3 linked regions of the Homo sapiens genome follow. The protein of the gene in region 2 interacts with the protein of the main gene of each other region in a biochemical or structural test. Each region holds a gene or a part of one and is shown on either strand. Other genes may lie near its edges.

Evidence for each region.
Region 1: the proteins of DRD3 (region 2) and EPB41L1 form a complex in vitro, tested with the Homo sapiens proteins (one study listed by BioGRID).
Region 3: the proteins of DRD3 (region 2) and CLIC6 form a complex in vitro, tested with the Homo sapiens proteins (one study listed by BioGRID).

Annotation. Positions count from the first base shown.
Region 1 is NC_000020.11:36,206,716-36,213,741, forward strand, and holds part of EPB41L1 (band 4.1-like protein 1), read left to right. Parts: coding exon of another isoform or gene 1-1,065; intron 1,066-1,585; coding exon of another isoform or gene 1,586-1,693; intron 1,694-2,772; coding exon 2,773-3,183; intron 3,184-5,556; coding exon 5,557-5,661; intron 5,662-6,621; exon of another isoform or gene 6,622-6,661; intron 6,662-7,026. UniProt on the Homo sapiens protein: May function to confer stability and plasticity to neuronal membrane via multiple interactions, including the spectrin-actin-based cytoskeleton, integral membrane channels and membrane-associated guanylate kinases.
Region 2 is NC_000003.12:114,134,037-114,141,062, reverse strand, and holds part of DRD3 (D(3) dopamine receptor), read left to right. Parts: intron 1-1,366; coding exon 1,367-1,563; intron 1,564-7,026. UniProt on the Homo sapiens protein: Dopamine receptor whose activity is mediated by G proteins which inhibit adenylyl cyclase. Promotes cell proliferation.
Region 3 is NC_000021.9:34,706,970-34,713,995, forward strand, and holds part of CLIC6 (chloride intracellular channel protein 6), read left to right. Parts: intron 1-310; coding exon 311-420; intron 421-974; coding exon 975-1,100; intron 1,101-1,730; coding exon 1,731-1,837; intron 1,838-2,387; coding exon 2,388-2,569; intron 2,570-7,026. UniProt on the Homo sapiens protein: In the soluble state, catalyzes glutaredoxin-like thiol disulfide exchange reactions with reduced glutathione as electron donor. Can insert into membranes and form voltage-dependent chloride-selective channels.

The DNA.
Region 1 (7,026 bases), on a different chromosome or scaffold from region 2:
GCAGGACAGACGTTTGCTGAAGGCTGGGAAGATGCCCAGTGGGGAGTGGAAGGAGAGTTTCCCCACCTGACAGCCAGCGCAGCCCGAGAGGAAGGGACCCCCGTGAGTGGAGATTTGCTGGGAAAGGCTGAGGAAAGTCCCACAGAGGAACTGAAGAAGCACCCTCCTCACAGAGGACAGGGCGTGCATCCCGACCCCCAGGCCTGCGCCCTTCCTCGGGCCATCCCTCTGAATGTCAGGAAGCCAGTCAAACCAGACAGAGGCAACTTCCCACCCAAAGAGAGGGGAGTGGTTCCCACCCAGAAAGGAGGGGCTGAGCTGAAGGACCGCGAGGCTTCAGCATTTCTTCACATGGAGGTGATCATTCCCCTGCCAGCCTCCCCTGGTCATTCTGAGGACCTGGCAGCTCTGGAGGAAGCTTCTCCAAGCCCAACCTCCCATGGGTCAGGGGAGCCTTCGGAGCTCAGGGAGCCCTTTCTTAGACATGTCCATCTTTCGAAAGCCAGCCCAGAGCCCAAGGACCAAGTAGGGTTTGTGGTGTCCCCTGCCACAGGAGGTGAGCGCAGGCCTCCTCCCATCACCAGCAGAAAGCCCAGAGTAGTCCCTGAAGAAGCTGAGGGGCGCATACCTCTGGGGTTTGGGTTCCCTTCAGGGAAGCGAAGGGAGATGACCTCTTTCCAGGCTGGGGACCAAGAGGGCTCCCTAGAAGATATTAGCAAGACCTCAGTGGCCAACAAAATTCGGATATTTGAGACCCACGGAGCTGAAACTCGCCGAATGAGTGAGGGTGAAGCAAGGTCCCTTCCAAATGACGTATCTTCAGAGGCACCCGTGGGACAAGCAGAGCAGCAGCGGAGTACGCTCTCAGACCTGGGCTTCGCCCAACTCCAGCCCCCAGGGGACTTTGCCAGCCCCAAAGCCACACATTCCACAGTGATACCTCTGGCTACCAGACACTTCAGGGAGGACACTTCTGCATCCTACCAGGAAGCACACACGGAACTAGAGCCCGTGTCCCCCAATTCAGGCTGTGAAACCACGCTGGCAGAAGCTACTGGAACTGGGGTAACTGGCCGCGTGAGCCCCCGCCCCCACCGCTGCTCCCCGCCCATGGGGGCTGGCCGCATGCTCTGTAGTTTTTAGAAGCATGTTTCAGTGGCCCCTCGTCATTTCTGCAATCAGAGGCTGCTTATCCATCCCTGTGAGTTTTTTCCCTAAACGGGCCTGGGTGTAGCTCAGGCTGAATGATGGGCTTCTCTGCTTGGCCCATGTTAGCTTGGCCACAAAGACCCTCAGCTTTTGGTGTGACCTGGTGCCCAGAGGGTCACACAACCCCCATGGAGAAGGTGGCGCCACCACCAGCAAATGACACACCTGCTTTGCCTTGCCGCTCATACCCGCTGGGTTCCTGCCTACCTTGCTTGGCTTGTCCAGCGATCTTTCTTCATCCTTTCCCATCCCTGGTTCTCCCGCCTTGGGAAAGTTGACAGTCCAGAGGTTTCCATCCTTCACTTCTGGTTCCCTCTCAGTCCCAGTGCCAAGTTTCTTTCTGCCTCCTTAAGACTAACTGTCTTCTCTAATCCAGAACAAATCCGGAGATGCGGTCAGGGAAGAGAAGCGCTCCACCAACTTAGCAGCCAACACCCCTGGGAAGGGGGGGCGCCTGAGATTTGCCAGCCCCTCGGGCCCTCAGGTCTCTGCAGCCCCTCTGTGCCCTGATGACCCAGTCACCTTCACCCGGCCAGGATGCATCGCCGCCTTAGGTTCCCACCTGCTGTGGCAGCACCTCTCGTGCTGCTCAACTCTGGCTTGTCTGGAATGTCTCCCTCACACCTCTCAACCTTCCAGAAACTGGCTAAATGGAGGCTCGCTTAGCAAGTGAATGTCTAAGCCCACTGAATCCCTAGAACCAGAAGCCAAGTTCTTTACAAATCTTTCATGGGTATTAGGTTGGTCTTTAAAAAGAATGTTATGAACCAGCCAAAAATGTGTGTGTGGTGTTTAATCCCTGACAGGCCAGTTGAGAGGTATGTATGTCGGACAAGAGTTGCTGGTTCCCCGAGGCACTGCCTTGGCCCGCTGTTGTCAATTACACTGATGGGACCAGAGCCTCTACTCCCTGACTTGCCTGTGGTCCACTCATGGAGCCCAGGGTGGAGCTGGCGTAGCACTCAGCTCCCAAGAAGCTCGTGCCCAAAAGGCCTGACCCTGAATTGCTCTTCTCTCTAGTCGATGCTGACCCCTCCCCCGGAGACTCAGTGGAATTGACAAACATGTTGGCTTCCTCTTTTGTTCCTCAAAGTTCTTGGCTCCAACCTCTCTGCCTTCCCTTCCTGGGTCTCCCTGAATCCCTGGATCTCCCTCCTTAGTTTCTGTTTCTCAACGCCCACCTGCACGGATGGGCCTGGGGTCCGGGCTTCCATCCCTGCCTTTCGTGCAATGCTGCTTCCAATAAGCTCCCAGATCCAATACCCTTGGATGGAGCCTCCTGTCCAGGAGTCACTGGCAGGACGTTTGCTTTGTACTTGCTTTTGCCATCAGTGTGAGACCCTCAGAAAGGGGCATCTCCACTCTTGAGTCGTTTTTGTTTTTTTTATGCTTGTTATGATTTCAAGGAACCTTTCCTGGGGTGTTTTTCATTTCCTGGCCTGCTCTTCCATTCAGGATGTCGACACAGCCCCGAGATTTCTCCTGACATTCACCATCTTGATTTCTCTTTCTCTCTCTCTCCCCACCCCACATCCCCATTCTTTTGATTTTATCTGGCCATAGAGAGCAGGGCTGAGGGAGGGCTCCGAGGAGAAAGTCAAACCACCACGTCCCCGGGCCCCAGAGAGTGACACAGGCGATGAGGACCAGGACCAGGAGAGGGACACGGTGTTCCTGAAGGACAACCACCTGGCCATTGAGCGCAAGTGCTCCAGCATCACGGTCAGCTCTACGTCTAGCCTGGAGGCTGAGGTGGACTTCACGGTCATTGGTGACTACCATGGCAGCGCCTTCGAAGACTTCTCCCGCAGCCTGCCTGAGCTCGACCGGGACAAAAGCGACTCGGACACTGAGGGCCTGCTGTTCTCCCGGGATCTCAACAAGGGGGCCCCCAGCCAGGATGATGAGTCTGGGGGCATTGAGGACAGCCCGGATCGAGGGGCCTGCTCCACCCCGGATATGCCCCAGTTTGAGGTACAGTGGAGCTTCCTCAAGAGCCAGGCCCGCTGGGCACCGCATGCTCAGAGGGCCCTGGGCCACCCGTGAGAAGACCGAGCACCCAGCCTGCAGCCTGAAGCTCTGTCTCGTGTTGCATGACTGCCCCTCCGCAGAACAGCATGGTTCTGTGCTCGCATGTTTGCCATCTCGGTTTACCCCTAACACGCGCTCCTTGGTATTTTAACCCTGTGACCCCATCGCTTGCTGAAGTCGAGCGATGACAGGTAGTCTGGTCTTTCTTGACCCCATGCCCCCCCACCTGTGTTGCATGGCACCTGCAGAGAGCATGCGTCTGTGGACTCTTGGGGGCTCCTGCAGCCTGGTCTGAAAGCTGAATGGTTTTTCCTGATCCGGGCCCAGGCTTGTCTCTCTGGGGTCTGGGCTTCCCGGGGAAGGGGAAGCAGTTTAAATCCATCTGGCCCTGGGGTCTCAGGGTGGTAATGGAAGCTCCTGGAAGAGAGGAAATGTGGTCATTGAGGAGGGACAGACTGTCTCTGGGCCTCTCTGTGGTCTCCTCTGTAGAGCTGTGAAGGGATTTCTCTAAGGCACGCCTGCCCATATCATTCCTTTGCCCCCTCATCTCTTCTAGACCCAACCTCCCTCCTACACTCTCCTTTCCCCAACATTCCTGGCATTGAAATATGAGCTTAGCCACTCTGGGCTCTCACTTCATGCTATATTCTCTGAGCAGGTTTTTTTTTCTCCCTTTCGGTGCCTTACAAACCTATCATGTTCCAGGACCAAGTTCAAATGTCAGTTTCCTAGCAGGGGTTTGCTTTCCTGACCACCCTGGGCAGAAATATCGCCCCCCTACCCCCTTGCCCTGTAATGCCTATGCTCCAGCACTATCCAAAGCGGTCAGGTCAGTGGCTGACAAGCCTGCTCTCCCACCAGGTGGCAGCTCCTCTAGGCCTGGCATATACTAGGCACTAATAGATGATTAACTGGATGAATGGCTGGGTTACAGGGTTGCAACCATCTATAAGAATCCCCTTCAGCCAGGCACAGTGGCTTGTGCCTGTAATCCCAGCTACTCAGGAGCTGAGGCAAGAAGGCAGGGGGATCACTTGAGCCCAGGAGTTCGAGGCTACAGTGAGCTTTGATCGTGCCACTGCACTCCAGCCCGGGCGACAGAGTGAGACCTTGTCTCTTAAAAACAAAACAAAACAAGAAAAAAAAAATCTCCAGGCACAGTGGTTCACACCTGTAATCCCAGCACTTTGGGAGGCTGAGGCAGGTGGATCACCTGAGGTCAGGAGTTCAAGACCACCCTGACCAACATGGTGAAACCTTGTCTCTACTAAAAATACAAAAATTAGCTGGGCGTGGTGGCACCCACCTGTAATCCCAACTACTCGGGAGGCAGGAGAATCACTTGAACTCAGGAGGCAGAGGTTGCAGTGAGCTGAGATCACGCCATTACACTCCAGCCTGGGCAACGGAACGAGATTCCATCTCAAAAAACAAAACAAAAACAAAAACAAAACTATACTCAGAGGTCATAGTCACAGCTTGCCATACCCAAATGGACCCCACATGCTCTCTACTTCACCCCAGTCCTCAACAAACCCTCTTCACTCATTGACATCTCCTGCCTGGATGCTGTAGGCCTCCAAGCATGTGTGGCTCTTGCTCTAAAGAAGAGTCCAGGCTGGGCACGGTGGCCCACACCTGTAATCCCAGCACTTTGGGAGGCTGAGGCAGGTGGATCACTTGAGGTCAGGGGTTCAAGAACAGCCTGGCCAACATGGTGAAACCCCGTCTCTACTAAAAATACAAAAGTTAGCCGGGTGTGGTGGCATGAGCCTGTAGTGCCAGCTACCTGGGAGGCTGAGGTAGGGGAATCGCTTGAACCTGGAAGGCAGAGGTTACAGTGAGCCGAGATCGCACCATCGCACTCCAGCCTGGGCGACAAAGGGAGAGTCTGTCTCAAGAAAAAAAATAGAAGAGTTCAGCTGAAGCGGCTGAGAGGTGGTGAGCTCACCAGGATTTGGTGACATTATGTACACAAGGAAAACACTTAGCCCAGGGCCTGTCATAGAGTATGTTAATGAAATGGTAGATGTTCTAATAGTAGCCTAAAAAACAGCATATAGCCACCATGAGGGTGTGTGGCACAGGGGCGCAGGGCAGGCCTGCCTGGTCCTGGTGGTGGTCCTGGCTCTCCTCGCGGGCTATCTGTCTATGATATCACACCACAACTCTTTTACCCTGTCCAGAGTACCCTTCCAGAGATGTGGCCAGCTGTGGGGATAGGAGATAGCCTGCAGACACCACACTGCAATTGTCTGTGAGCAAGGGTCATGCTAGGGTTTCAGTTACAGAGCATTCTCCCTCCTTTTCCTACAGCCCGTGAAAACAGAAACCATGACTGTCAGCAGTCTGGCCATTAGAAAGAAGATTGAGCCGGAGGCCGTACTGCAGACCAGAGTCTCCGCTATGGATAACACCCAGGTAACTTGTGCCTTCCAATGTACCCTAAGCATGGGTATTGGGCATTTGGTGGTAGGGTCCCCACTGCTGTGGCCAAACCCCTTGGCCAGCTCTTTTAATCTCAGCTTCCCTGGAACCCATATGTTAATCCTGATGCTCTCCTGTGCCTCAGTGTCCTCTCTGAGCTCTGGGGAGGGGCAACGGGTAAAGCAGGTTCCTGTCCTGGGCAGACCATACTTCTTAAAGCCTCCATTTAGCCATCCATAAAATGGGAATGACCCTGTCTACCCCTTCCTCCTGGGCATATTGGGAGGACTGTACTGACTAGTGGATTGGGACCTTGGTGTTCACATTGCTTGGAGGAGTTGGAGAGGTTTCTTGAGGTATCTCAGGGGCTGCTTGAGGAGAGAAGAGGGAGAGATCCCAATTCAGCTTCAGTCAGAATAGCTCACCTTGGGTCATTTTTTATGCATTAGAGTTCCACATCAGATCAGTAAAATGAACAAAGTGAAAGAAGAAAACCGAAGATCATGTGTCTTGACAAGAAGCAGCATCCTGACCACCTGGAGAAAGCCGTCAGGCATAGGCACAGGCCCACGACTTCCAGTCCATTCCCTGCACTCCTTCCATGCTTTTTAAACTTAGGAAGTTAAGATTGAGGATCTGATAGATGCCCTCCTGGTTTTTCCTGGCCAGAAGAGCTACAATGCTAGGAGCTTTTTTGCTCTGAGACTAACCTTTTCCTGAAGAACTGAAATAAGACCAGGCACAGTGGCTCACATCTGTAATCCCAGCACTTTGTGAGGCCAAGGCAGGCAGATCGCTTGAGCCCAGGGGTACAAGACCAGCCTGGGCAATATAGGGAGACCCCAGCTCTACAAAAAATACAAAAATTAGCTGGGCATGGTAGCACATGCCTGTAGTCCCAGCTGCTCGGGAGGCTGATGTAGGAGGATCACTAAAACCCAGGAGGTCGAAGCTGCAGTGAACTATGAGCTATGATTCCACCACTGCATTCCAGCTTGGGTGACAGGGAAAAAAAGAGAGAGAAAGAGAAAACTGAAATAAGACATAAACCAATACAACATGGGCAATTCTTTTGTTTCCAGATTTCTTTCTCCCACTTTTATAATGATGGTAGGAGTTTATGAGGCCGTCTACTACAGGTCAGGACTCTTGAGTTCTGATGAGCTGTGTGACCTTGGGCAAGCTGCTTCCCCCACTGACCTGTTTTGTTTTAGTAACACGTGTTTCTGTTGTGTTTTCATACAGAAAAGTATAAAGAAACTAAAATTGGCCCTAGATCCCACAGCCCAGTAACCCTTATTGACATAAAAACAAAACAACAAAAAAAGTTTATAGTTATACAATTCAAGCAGAACAAAA
Region 2 (7,026 bases):
CAAAATTCCGTCTCAAAAAATAAATAAATTAATTAATTGATTAATTAAAGAAACGTGTCCAAGATCACACAGTTAATAAATAGCAGACCTGAATCTCACACTGAAGGCTCTCTGGCTTCCACCTACCTCAGAAGACCAAGAAGCAGAATAAGGGTCCTACATGGCCACTGCCCTCTCCCCACCAGCCCACACCTGAGGCTTCATCTTCCAAGGCCAACTTTGAGGTTGGAGAATCCCCAACCCTTTATGAAGACTGGCCGGGTGTACCAACAGTTGTTGCTCACAGTGCTGGATGAAGCACAGATGTTCCATGTCACAATGGTAAAGAGGGATGGGGAGTTAAAATTATAGAAAGAACATTGGCTTGGGCATAAAACTGGCTGCAAGAACATATTTTTCAGGTGCAGCCTTGGGCTACTTACTGAACCTCTCTGAGCTTTAATCTGCTCATCCGAAAAGAGAGACAGTAATAATGGCACCTGTCTCATATAACGTTGCCTTAATTATTAGGTGGGATAAGGGGTACAAAGCTCTTGGCTCATCGCCTGGCAGATATTAGTTTGCTTTTCTTTTCTTTTTCAAGATGGGGCACGTTTCAGGCCCATCTTGGGCCTTGGAGGAATCTCAGCATCTGCTATGAAGAAGGCAAAGCTAGAGGGACCTCCCAAGGAGAAATGGCAGGAACATTTCAGGATATAAAGCAGGGACAAGGACCCTTCTAAGTGCACATTCTCCATGTCACAATATCATTACCTGCCTTTTTCCCATCCCACCTCTGACAAGTGCTGGGATTCCCTGAAAAATCAAATCTCTGTCTTGTATTCAGCCGCCATCTGCCCTCCATCCCAGATTCAAAATTGGAGAACTGGCATTCTCAGCAAATAAGGCTTCTTCCTTTCATTGCATTCAAACAATTCTCCAATGCCTCCGCACCAGCAGGCCCTTTTCTGAGGGCTGCATCCCTCCTGGGAGCCTCTGCCCTGTTGCCCTGTAATGCTCTCCCCAGCCTCCCAGGCTGCATGTCTCTGTGTGACACTTGTGACATCCTATGAAAGGGATCATCTGTCTATCTAGACTGTTTGCTCCCTTGAGAGAAGACATGGTGTCTCATTCATCTTTGTAGCCCCAGTGTCTGGCGTATGATTGTTGGTAACTTTTTATTTTAAGCAAGCTGTAAGAAACTCAAAGATGAATTAGACCTTCTACCCTCAAGGACCTGACAGTATACGTATCTGAGACTGCATCCTTCCCACCCCCTGTGCAGCAGAAAGTGCAGGCACCACACGTGACATGGAGCCGTGTTTTATGCTCCTTACTGAGTTCTGATACTTGCTAACTGCTTTACCTTCCCCCTTCTCATCCACAGGGGACCCCACTGTCTGCTCCATCTCCAACCCTGATTTTGTCATCTACTCTTCAGTGGTGTCCTTCTACCTGCCCTTTGGAGTGACTGTCCTTGTCTATGCCAGAATCTATGTGGTGCTGAAACAAAGGAGACGGAAAAGGATCCTCACTCGACAGAACAGTCAGTGCAACAGTGTCAGGCCTGGCTTCCCCCAGCAAGTAAGTACCCTGGAGGGGGTAGAGGGAAGACAACACCCAATCTCCTGACTTCCCAGCCTGTGTCCAGCAGTGCATGATTTTGCCGTTTAGCTAAATTGGAGACACAAATCTGACACCGACTTTGGAATCTGCTAATTTTGGCTGCGCTTTGAAGGTAGGAAATCCAATCTCAAGAAAACATTGATAGTTGCCTCTAGAGCCTGCCTTACCTGGCAAAGTGATTGGAGAGCTCCTGGGCTTGTTCTGCTTCCCTTCAAAGTCTTTCATTTTCCCCAAATGGGCAGCAGCTCAGATGTCCCACAGGTTTTGAAGTTTAAGTGCAGCAGTTGTACCTTGCACTGCTGGTGGGTTCCCAGAACTGACTTTTTGTCTAAACCACTCATGCCAAGAATCACTGGGGTCCATCAAAGCCTTTTTTCCTTACTGGATCTGTCCGTGTGTCAAGGAACTGACAAGCTGGTGGGATAGGGTGCTGATAAAGCATTTTATTGGATCTTTCTAGGCTCTGAAAAGAAATGTCATTGCCTCTGCAATGATCTTCTAATTGCTAGGGCTTTAATTTCTCCTTACCCCATTGTCTGGCACTTAGTAGTTTTCCCACGATGTACTTGAAGCATGAATGGATATATACCGATCACTTGAAATCTACTAGGGAAGGGACAGTGGTAACATTAAACAGCATCTGCCTTCATGGAGCTTAGAATCTAGAAAAGCAAATAAAGCACCCCTCCACTCAATGTTAATGAAGATCCCAGAGCTGAATAGGATGTTTGCCAAATGTGAGGTGAAGACAATTAAGCACTCAATTATGAAGTGCTCTGGAGGTTATAGAAGAGAAAACCCAATATGCTCAGTGATATGGTTTGGCTGTGTCCCCACCCAAATCTCATCTTGAATTGTAGCTCCCACAATTCCCATGTGTCATGGGAGGGACCCAGTGGGAGGTAACTGAATGATGGGGGTGGGTCTTTCCCTTGCTGTTCTCATGATAGTGAATAAGTCTCACGAGATCTGATGGTTTTATGAGGGGGAGTTTCCCTGCACAAATTTTCTCTTGTCTGCTGCCATGTAAGACGTGCCTTTCACCTTCCACCATGATTGTGAGGCCTCCCCAGCCACATGGAACTGTGAATCCATTAAACTTCTTTTTCTTTATAAATTACCCAGTCTCAGGTATGTCTTTATTAGCAGCATGAAAACAGGCTAATACACTCAGGAAAGGGCTCCATAGACAGAGTAAGAATTGAGTTTGATCTTGAAGACAGATCCAATTTGGGTGTCTAGATTAATCTTTGATGACCTAGATAATCTTTTTTTTTTTTTTTTTTTTTGAGACAGAGTCTCGCTCTGTCACCCAGACTGGAGTGCAGTGACATGATCTCAGCTCACTGCAGCCTGTACCTCCTGGGTTCAAGCGATTCTCGTGCCTCTGCCTCCCGAATAGCTGGGATTACAGGTGCCCACCAACACATCTGGCTAATTTTTTTTTTTTTTTTTTTTTTGAGACGGAGTCTCGCTCTGTGGCCCAGGCGGGAGTGCAGTGGCGCAATCTCAGCTCACTGCAAGCTCCGCCTCCCGGGTTCACGCCATTCTCCTGCCTCAGCCTCCCGAGTAGCTGGGACTACAGGCGCCCACCATCACGCCCGGCTAATTTTTTTTTTTTTGTATTTTTAGTAGAGACGGGGTTTCACTGTGTTAGCCAGGATGGTCTCGATCTCCTGACCTCGTGATCCGCACGCTTCGGCCTCCCAAAGTGCTGGGATTACAAGCGTGAGCCACCGCGCCCGGCCACATCTGGCTAATTTTTGTATTTTTAGTAGAGACAGGGTTTTTCCTTGTTGGCTAGGCTGGTCTATAATGCCTGGCCTCAAATGATCTGCCCACCTCAACCTCTCCAAGTGCTGGGATTACAGGCATAAGTGCCCAGCCTGATGACCTACATTATCTCTGATGACCTGTTAAGGTCTTTGATGATGTCAAAAGTATGAATGAAGGTCAGACTCTTAAGTTGAAGTCCCAAGGCTTGAGTGAAACAAGACTATTAATCCCCATGAAAGAGGAGATCAAGACCCAAGGCTGAGGATATGAAAGTATTGCATTCAAAATATTATCATGTCCCATGGCTATCAATGACATGGCTAGACCCACAACTAACTGTTCCTTCTTCTACACCCCCTGCCCAGTCTTCTTGTCTGCACCTGCACCCCATTCAGCAGTTGTCAGTAAGGGCCTGATTTCCATCACATGCCACAGGAAAAATGGTAAGTGGGCCATGTCTGATCATAGAGAAAGAATAAGAGACCTTTTCCCACAATACTGGCTTATCTTGATTCTACTCTCACCCCAGAATGAAACCTTACCCTGATTCCCACACATATATCTATAAGACAAGATCTGAAATTCTTCCTAATTTAAGCTTCAGAATAGAATTCATCAGAAGATATTGAGAAAGCATATGACTATTGGACTTGACCTTAGTGACTGGAGCCAATGACTCTTGCACACGGTGTGACAATGCCATCCAAGGCCACCTGCATTAGAGGAAACAGACGTCAAGGGAACACACATGGACAGAGCAAAAACCAGGCAGAGAAAGGAAAATTTCAAGTGCCATATTTACCACTGAATGTGGGAAAAACCAAGACAACTTCATGGTCACCATTAGCCTTGTTCTTCCAATTCAAGCCAGGCCTGCCTCGCCCAGCTAGCAGAGTGCAGAGTGGAGTCTGGAGGTGTTAGATATGAGAACAGTATTCCTCTCTGAATTCCACATTAGAAATAAAACTTCAAAAATTTGTAATAATTAAGGTCTGAGCTTTGTTCAATCTCAGTATAGTTAATGACTTTCTACACAGGCCTGGTGTGGTAATTGGAGATAATCATTTTAAACGATAATAGCTATGCAGCTCAAAGTTGCCTATGGCTGATCCAAGGTCTAAGGAGGCTTCAAGGCCAAGAGGAGGAAAAATATTGAATACAAAAGAGAGATCAGACAGCCAAGAGACTGGCATTTCCAAGAGTGTGGAGAATTAGGTTCTGTCCTGCCATCTGGGAGTGGAGGGCTCTGCCAGCCAGACCCAGAGGAATCCAGTGTTTCCTCATGTCAGTCATGGAAGTAGTGATCAGGTTTTGCAGACAGAGCTGAAAAATACACTCACCAATATATAATCTTGGAAGAATCATTTTCCTACTATAGGACTGAATTTCCATATCTGTAAAATGGAAACAGGGTATACTAGATCAATGTTTTCAAATATGAGGTTTTTTTGTTTTTGTTTTTGTTTTTGAGACAGAGTCTCACTCTGTTCCCCAGGCTGGAGTGCAGTGGTGTGATCACAGCTCATGGCAGCCTTGAACTCTTGGGCTGCACCCAGCTAATATGAGATTTCTTAGGCAATCCCAAGAATTTGTTTCCCATCCCCTAGTTTTAGAAATAATGCGTTAGAAGTCAAATATTGTCACTTTAAGAAGATCAGTAGGTGCCAGTTTAATTGTAAACATAATCTTGGGGCCGCGTGTGGTGGCTCACGCCTGTAATCCCAGCAATTTGAGAGGCCAGGATGGGCAGATCACCAGGTCAGGAGTTCGAGACCAGCCTGACCAACATGGTGAAACCCCATCTCTACTTAAAAAAATACAAAAATTAGCCGGGCATGGTGGCATGCACCTATAATCCCAGCTACTCAGGAGGCTGAGGCACAAGAATCACTCTAACCCAGGAAGCAAAGGTTGCAGTGAGCAGAGATTTCACCACTACACTCCAGCCTGGGCGACAGAGGGAAACTCCATCTCAAAAACAAACAAACAACAACAAAAAAAAACAAACAAAAAAACACACCATAATCTCTGTTGTAAATAGGCATTCAGATAAAATGAAATATGCTTATTTTAATTATTAGAAAATGCCATCAAACTAAAAACCAAAAAATGTTAAATATGTATTCTCTTAACTTGACGTCATGTTAAGTGAAATAAGCCAGACATAGTAAGACAAATATCGGCCGGGCGCGGTGGCTCACGCCTGTAATCCCAGCACTTTGGGAGGCCGAGGCGGGTGGATCATGAGGTCAAGAGATCGAGACCATCCTGGCTAACAAGGTGAAACCCCGTCTCTACTAAAAATACAAAAAATTAGCCGGGCGCGGTGGCGGGCGCCTGTAGTCCCAGCTACTCGGGAGGCTGAGGCAGGAGAATGGCGCGAACCCGGGAAGCGGAGCTTGCAGTGAGCCGAGATTGCGCCACTGCAGTCCGCAGTCCGGCCCGGGCGACAGAGCGAGACTCCGTCTCAAAAAAAAAAAAAAAAAAAAAAAAAAAAGACAAATATCACATGTTCTCAATCACATATGGAAGCTAAAAAAGTGGTTATCGTGAAAATAGAGAGTAGGTTCATGGTTACCAGAGGCTAGGAAGGAGATGGGGGAGGGGGCGAGAAAGAGAGGTGGATTCAGGGGTACAAACATACAATTAAATAGAAGGAACAAGTTCTAGTGTCTAATAGCACAGTAGGGTGACTACGCTTAACAACAGTTTTTATATATTTCAGAATACCTAGAAGAAAAGATTTGAAATGCTCCCAACACAAAGAAATGATAATTGTTTGAAGTGATGACTAGCCTGATTTGATCATTACACATTGTATGCATGTATCAAAATATTGCATTTGCCCCACAAATATGTAAAATTATTATATATGAATTTTTAAAATCTTCAAGAAAAAAATGTATATTATTCTAGAATTCCTAAGAATACCTCTGTGGACCACCATTTAAAAAAAACTCTAGGCCAGATGCTGTGGCTCATGCTTGTAATCCCAGCACTTTGGGAGGCTGAGGTAGGTGGATCACTTGGGGTCAGGAGTTCGAGACCAGCCTGGCCAAAATAGTGAAACCCCATCACTATTAAAAATACAAAAATTAGCCAGGTGTGATGGTGGGCGCCTGTAATCCCAGCTACTCAGGAGTCTGAGGCAGGAAAATTGCTTGAACCTGGGAGGCAGAGGTTGCAATGAGCCGAGATCATGCCACTTCACTCCAGCCTGGTGACAGAGTGAGACTTTGTCTTAAAGAATAAATAAATAAATAAAAATTTTAAAAACTTAAATTGGCTGGGCATGTTGGCTCACACCTGTAATCCCAACACTTTTGGAGGCCAAGACAGGAGGATCACTTGAGCCCAGGAATTTGAGACCAGCCTGGCCAACATAGCAAGACCTCATTTCTACTAAAAATAATAAATAAATAAATAACACTAAATAGTCTTGAAGACCGCTTGCATTCATTCATTCATTCTGAGTATGTACAATGTGCCAGTTCTGTGTACCTAGAAGACTGCTTCCTTGAACTAAGGAAACCAAAGCGAGGGGTTTTTGTTGCTGACACTGAATAACTTACGTAGAAAACAAATTTACTGGAAAGCTGTCAGGTGGCTCACAGGCTCAATGAGAAGGCTGAAGAACAGCTTCAG
Region 3 (7,026 bases), on a different chromosome or scaffold from region 2:
TCCTTCCATCAGTGAGCTGCTGCTCAGAGGCCCAGTGTGGCAGGCAGTGGTGAGGTGGTGGGGAAGGAAGAAAGAAAATGCTCAGTGCAGTGCATACATGTGCATGTGCGTGCGTGTGTGGTGTTCTCTCCCCTAACCCCTACATCCACCGCCAACTCCACATTGAGGCTGGTAAAATGGCCTCAGGAGGATATTCGCAGCATCCTGACCGTTCTTATCAACCTGCAATGATTTTGCATGTGCATGTTGTGGTGTTGGCACTTATAATTGTGAGACTGGCTCAGATAGAAATCTCCTTCTCCACTTGTAGGCTGGTTATGATGGTGAGAGTATCGGAAATTGCCCGTTTTCTCAGCGTCTCTTTATGATTCTCTGGCTGAAAGGCGTTATATTTAATGTGACCACAGTGGACCTGAAAAGGTAAGACAAGGCGTCTGCCTTACTGAAATAACTGTACCTAGTTCTCTGCACACACACACACACACACACACACACACACACCTGAGGCCAACGGTGCTGCATGGGCACGTCCATCCTCAGTCGGAGTCTGAACTGAAGCCCACATGTGGGCCAAGCAGTCATGACAGGGTCGGCTGGGCTGGAGTCAGGAAGGAGGAGGAGTTGGGGGTGCCGTGAAGAACCTGCTTCTCCAGTTGCTGGTCAGCTGTGACTCTCCCAAGCCTGTCTGAGCACCATCCCTGGCTGATAACACTGGGGAGAGTTAACTTTTTCACCTCTGTTTGTTGATATGCCCCTTTGTGCTCCGTATTCACAAAGGGGCACCTCAACAAGCCCATCATTTGTTAATGAATGCCTTTACTTTCATCGCCAGCAAGACATTTTCATAAACCCACCATCTACTTTGCAGTTCTCAAGAGTTGCTTCTCTTAAACTGGTGAGGACGCGGCTAAGCCCTGGAAATGAGTCCAGATTCTCACGGTGGCCCATAAACACTGCTGTTTCCTCCCACCTAGGAAACCCGCAGACCTGCAGAACCTGGCTCCCGGAACAAACCCTCCTTTCATGACTTTTGATGGTGAAGTCAAGACGGATGTGAATAAGATCGAGGAGTTCTTAGAGGAGAAATTAGCTCCCCCGAGGTAGGCCTCAGAAAACCAGTGTTCATAACTTGATTGTCACTTTCCCCCACTAGTAGTCAGTTCTAAAGCTCTGGGCAGTGTGTGTGTGTGTGGTTTTCTGCAGCCCACGGTGCTCACTTCCTTAATCATAACCCTGGTGTAACCAGATTAGAGTTCGGGGACCTGGGTTTCATTGTGCTGCACCTGCAGCTTGGCAATCACAGTTTGATGGCAGGAAGTGGGAGGAGATGGGTCCAGGGTGGGTGGTTGGCTGTATCCTAGACACCCTGCTGGAAGCTATGGAGTATGTGTTAGGAAGAAGTATCATGGATTTTTGGACCTCGGGGGAGCTATTTCTACTCCATCCCCTTCGTTTTACTAGGGAAGCACCTGAGACCAGCAAGGCCAGGTGGGGTCCTGTGTCCCAGAACTGGCCACTGCCAGGAAACAGCAACAATCCAAACCTCTCCGTCCAGTGCCATTCTCCTAGATGTTGTTACTTCCCAACCTTTGAGAGGAAAAGGGTCAGGAAAACGTTGAAGGAAAGCTTTTCATTTTTATGCCCAGAGAAAGCTGTTTTTCTCCATTGTATAGTATTATCTTCACTAAAACATCACTTGTCTGTGATCCTCCAATTTTGAACTTTTCAAGGTATCCCAAGCTGGGGACCCAACATCCCGAATCTAATTCCGCAGGAAATGACGTGTTTGCCAAATTCTCAGCGTTTATAAAAAACACGAAGAAGGATGCAAATGAGAGTGAGTACCTCCCATCCTCCTGTTTTGTTTCAACACAGACTTGAGTCTTAGCATGGCGGCCCATACGCTCCTGGGGTATTCCCATCTATTTCCCAGTGGGTAGAGAAGTGAGTCTGGAGCTACAGAAAAAGTGCCTCCAACTTTGAATCTGCACGTGGGCTTCAAGAGATGAATGCTTCTTTTGAGGCTGGGAACTCAGAAAACAACATTTTTAGGGAAAATAGTCATCACCCAGGTGTTCCGGACACACCATGGGAATCATGTTCAATGATGTTTCTGCCAGTCCACGTCTCCCCACAGGCTTTCCATAAGTATTTTTGAATAAATAAATCACTTCTAGAAGGAGCAATATTGTGTAGACAGCAGTGTGATTTTCCAGGGAGGAGTGAGCCCTTTATTCAGATATTCTACATCCACCTGCTGCCTTCCCAGCACCCATTGCTTGCTGGCCACATCTCAGCGAGGAAGGGAAGCAAACTCCATCACAGCTGGTGAAAAGTGACATGCACTTGCAAACCTCTCTTTGTGATTTCTTGCCCTTCTGTTTTAGTTCATGAAAAGAACCTGCTGAAGGCCCTGAGGAAGCTGGATAATTACTTAAATAGCCCTCTGCCTGATGAAATAGATGCCTACAGCACCGAGGATGTCACTGTTTCTGGAAGGAAGTTTCTGGATGGGGACGAGCTGACGCTGGCTGACTGCAACCTCTTACCCAAGCTCCATATTATTAAGGTTCATCTTCCCTCCCGACACGTGTGCCGAGTACACGAACGGGGCTTTGTTTTATTTTGTTTTTACTTGTGTTTGGGCCAGACATTTAAACAGTCTGAAATGTGGAGACTTGGATTAAAAACACTAGTTCTGTTCGGGGCAGCCAAGCCCCAGCTTTCACACACACAGAAGATGGGCTTCGGGTGTTCTCAGAAAGTGCCTGGGAACATGGCCCCACCTTCTGCTTCTCTCTCAGCCTTACTCACACAGCCTAAAGACAGGTTATGTGAAAGCAGCCTGAGGAATTTCGTAGATTATACCTGGTGTTAGCAATTGAGAATTAGAGATGAGGCTCGTAGAATCTGGGGCTATTCAAATGTGAACGCAGTCTACTGTTGGTGATTGTAGGGCTCCACATGGCCCCTTCTAGGGATGACAGAGGAGTGTTCTATTAGCTTTTAACAGTGACCCTTGGCCAGGTGCAGTGGCTCATGCCTGTAATCCCAGTGATTTGGGAGGCTGAGGTGGGAGGATTGCTTGAGGCCAGGAGTTCAAGACCAGCCAGGGCAACATAGCGAGACCCCATCTATACAAAAAATAAAAAAAAAAAATTAGCTGGGCATGGTGGTGTGTGCCTGTAGTCCCAGCCACATGGGAGGCTGAAGCTGGAGGATCACTTGAGCCCAGGAACCTGAGGCTGCAGCAAGTTAAGGAGGTGGCACTGCACTCTGGCCTGGGTGACAGAGTGAGACCCCATCTCTAAAAACAATTAGGTTATTAATTATTTATTTATTTTAAAAAAACATTGACCCTCAACATCCAGGAAGCAGCTGGCAGCTTTTGGCTGAGTCTCTGCCATATTTGTTGCCCTGCCTTCCCATATAGTAGCTGAACATGATTTAAGAGCCATGAGTCATGTATTATTAGGGCTTAAAGACCTGCCAGACCCGTGGTTCTCCAATGTTAGTAGGCATACAAACTGTCTGGGGAGCTTTTTAGAAATGTGAGTCCCCGGGCCAGGCATGGCGGCTCACGCCTGTAATCCCAGCACTTTGGGAGGCCAAGGCGGGCAGGTCACGAAGTCAGGAGATCGAGACCATCCTGGCTAACATGGTGAAACTCCCTATCTACTAAAAATACAAAAAATTAGCCAGGTGTGGTGGCGGGCACCTGTACTCCCAGCTACCTGGGGGGCTGAGGCAGGAGAATCGCTTGAACCCGGGAGGCAGACATTGCAGTGAGCCAAGATCACACCACTGAACTCCAGCTTGGGTGACAGAGCAAGACTCCGTCTCAGAAAAAAAACAAAAAACAAACAAACAAAAACCCCAAAAAAACAAGAAATGTAAGTCCCCGACCCACTGCCTGCGCTAGTAAATCGGAGCTTCCAAGAGTGACCCCTGGAGCTCCAAGCGGATATCCCCACACTCGGACTCTGTAGCTGTTGCTGTCTCTCAGCACAGCAGCGCTCCCAGCCGCTCTATCACTTATAGAAGTTGAATGTGATTGCTGTGATGAGATTGCTATGTCCTTGGCCCTTAGCAGCTCCAGATACCTCAGGAAGAAGCCCATGCCTGGCTCTGGGGCATTTTTATGATTAAAATCCTGCCAGGGCCAGAGCCAGGTGGTTGGTATAAGTGTAGGGGAGATGGGAGAAACACCAGGAAAAATAAGTCATGGACTGTTTGTTCTAATAACACATTTAGTTAGCATTTAGAAATTACAAGGTAGCGGCCAGGCGCAGTGGCTCATGCCTGTAATCCCAGCACTTTGGGAGGCCAAGATGGGCAGATCACTTGAGGCCAGGAGTTTGAGACCAGCCTGGCCAACATGGAGAAACCCTATCTCTACAAAAAATAAAAAAATTAGCTAGGTGTGGTGGTGTGCGCCTGTAGTCCCATGCATTTGGGAGGCTGAGGCACGAGAATCATTTGAACCCAGGAGGCGGAGGTTGCAGTGAGCACTCACTCCAGCCTGGGCAACAGAGCAAGACTCTGTCAAATAAACAAACAAATAAATAAATAAATAAATAAATAAATAAATAAATAAATAAATTACATGTTAGCTTCACACAGTCTATGGTGCTGAGGCTCCTGTGGGCTCCCGGCCACCCCTGGTGACTCTGCTTCATTCTTTTGCCTTTGTCTTCCTGCATTTCTTCTTTCTATCCTCTTCCCCTCTCGGTCCTGGCCCTGTTGCTCCCTTCTTCTCCCTTCCTTTTTGTGCGTGAGGATACTGACTTGAAATGCAGGCCTTCAGGAGGTTGCTGATCCCTTGGGCAGATGTCTTTTCAATAGCTTTGCCAGTCCACCAATATCCAAAATTTAATGAAAGCATCTCCACCCCTCAAAACCTGCTAAATTTGGGAGCTGCCTTCTAACAGGATATTTATGTAGCTGTGTTTTGATTGAGTCCCTTTTGGTAAATGCTTTTTAGTCCCTACTGTGACCAGCGTAGCATTGCAGAAACACATGAAACTTGAAGAAGAGGGGGAGAAATATCCCAGCCACAGAGCATTCATGGCCCCTTGTTTAGCTCCCATGAGAAAAGACGATTTTAAATTTCAGTAGAAAGGGTAAGCTTTAGAGTGAGATTGCAGTTCATGGCTCCACTATAAGACCCAGAAGAAAAATCTGCAAGGCCATTTAGCACTCACAATACCCAACAGCTTAATGATCTTCCAGGATGGAGTACTTCTGAAAGGAAATGAGAATCAATCTAAGGGAATTATGGTAAAAGATGAGAGTGTGAAGGGATTTATAATTTATTCCCCTGCCAGAAACCCAGCAAAAACAATATCAAAATAGGGTATTAGCTTCATCTTTTTTGTAAAACTACAAAGGGATGACAGATCATCGACTTAAAGAGTAGGAAGCTTCTTTCAGTGGGAGGAGCCACAGAACCATTACATGTTTCTCCGTATCTTTAGCAAAGTTCAGATTTCTCAAAAGGTAAAGAACACAGTCCTGAAATACCCAACTCAAACTTCTTTGCTTGAGGCCTAGAGCATGAGATGGGCCAGGAGGGAATCACAGAACTTCCCTATAGAGACCCTTGTTGAGCTGAGATCTCTAGGGAGGCAGAATTGAAGGAGGAGCCACACAGAGACGCCATCTTTCTAGGCTGTGACCCAGCACCTAATCCAGAGGAACAGTCTGGAGGGGAGGTAAAGAGGGAGGAAAGGAGGGAAGTGGCATTTTGCATTGTGACTGCTGAGCAGAGAAAAGAATCTAGGCCCCAGCCAGTCAAGAGAGAGACTAGAATTGCCCAAACTTCGTTTCTAGCCACAGTGGCCTTCTGCCTAATCTGTGAGCCTCAGAGTGGAGGATGCCCTAACCCTAACCCTAACCCTAACCCTAACCCTAACCCTAACCGTAACTCTAACCCTAACCCCAGCCCTAACCCCAACTCTAATGTGTCTCTCTGGGGCAGAGCAGTGGTTGGCGACAAGGTGCTTGGGAGCAAATATTCCAGTTGGTTGGCCACCTGCCCTGTCTCACTCCCTTTGCCCTCCCCACTGCTTTTAAGCAAATGATAGGTCCAGTAGATCTGCCTCATTCAAAGAAGGCCAATACCAGAGAGAATGCCAGTGAGACCTTGGGGTAGACAGAGTTGATTGAAAAGAAGGGGGTGGGGGGAGGAATGATAAAGACAAGAAACAAAAACAGAAAAAGACAGATGGGAAATACATATATGATCAAGAACTGCTCCTCCAGCACATTAAAGAACGTTTCTTACAGAAATTTTTCTACAGCCTCAAAGAAATGAAAGAGAATATGGGCTTTTTGAGAAAAATCTCAAAGACAAGACACAAGATGTTCAAAAATATATTATCACAAAGGGGATGGAAATCAGGCTGGAAGAGCTCAAGAAGAAAAGTAAAGACAAATAAAAGAACTGCAGAAATAAAAGTCCTGTTAGAAGCAGTAAGACACAGACGAAGACATTGCTGAAATTGATTTCCTCTGACATTCGCACACATCTTATAGAGTTGGTTTTGGCATGTGGAATGTGTTTGTAGCCGTGCTGTCAGTGATTTGGAAGACAAGCCTGAGAAAAATCATCTAAAATCAAGTGGGGAAGAATAAAAAAGGTGATTAGAGAGATCCCAGATATACATGATCAGGAACAAGAGAACAGAAAAGGAAAAGGAAAGGAAAAAAAAATAAAAGAAAACGAGAGAATGTTCAATGGGGAAATTACTTTGAACTAAAGGATGACCTGAATCTTCAGTTTAAATGACATGCCATGTTAAACATTGCCCCAGAAAGATCAACACACTGAGACATACTTGATACATTACTGAGCTTTGAGAATAAAAAACAACCCTTTTTGGCACCTAGACAATAATAATACTGTAATACCAACAACAGTAATAATAATAAAAAGAATGAAATAGAGTAAAGCCAGTGAAACAGGGAAGAAATTCAGACTGGCCCCAGATGTCTTCATGAACCCATTAAAAATCAGAAAATTGT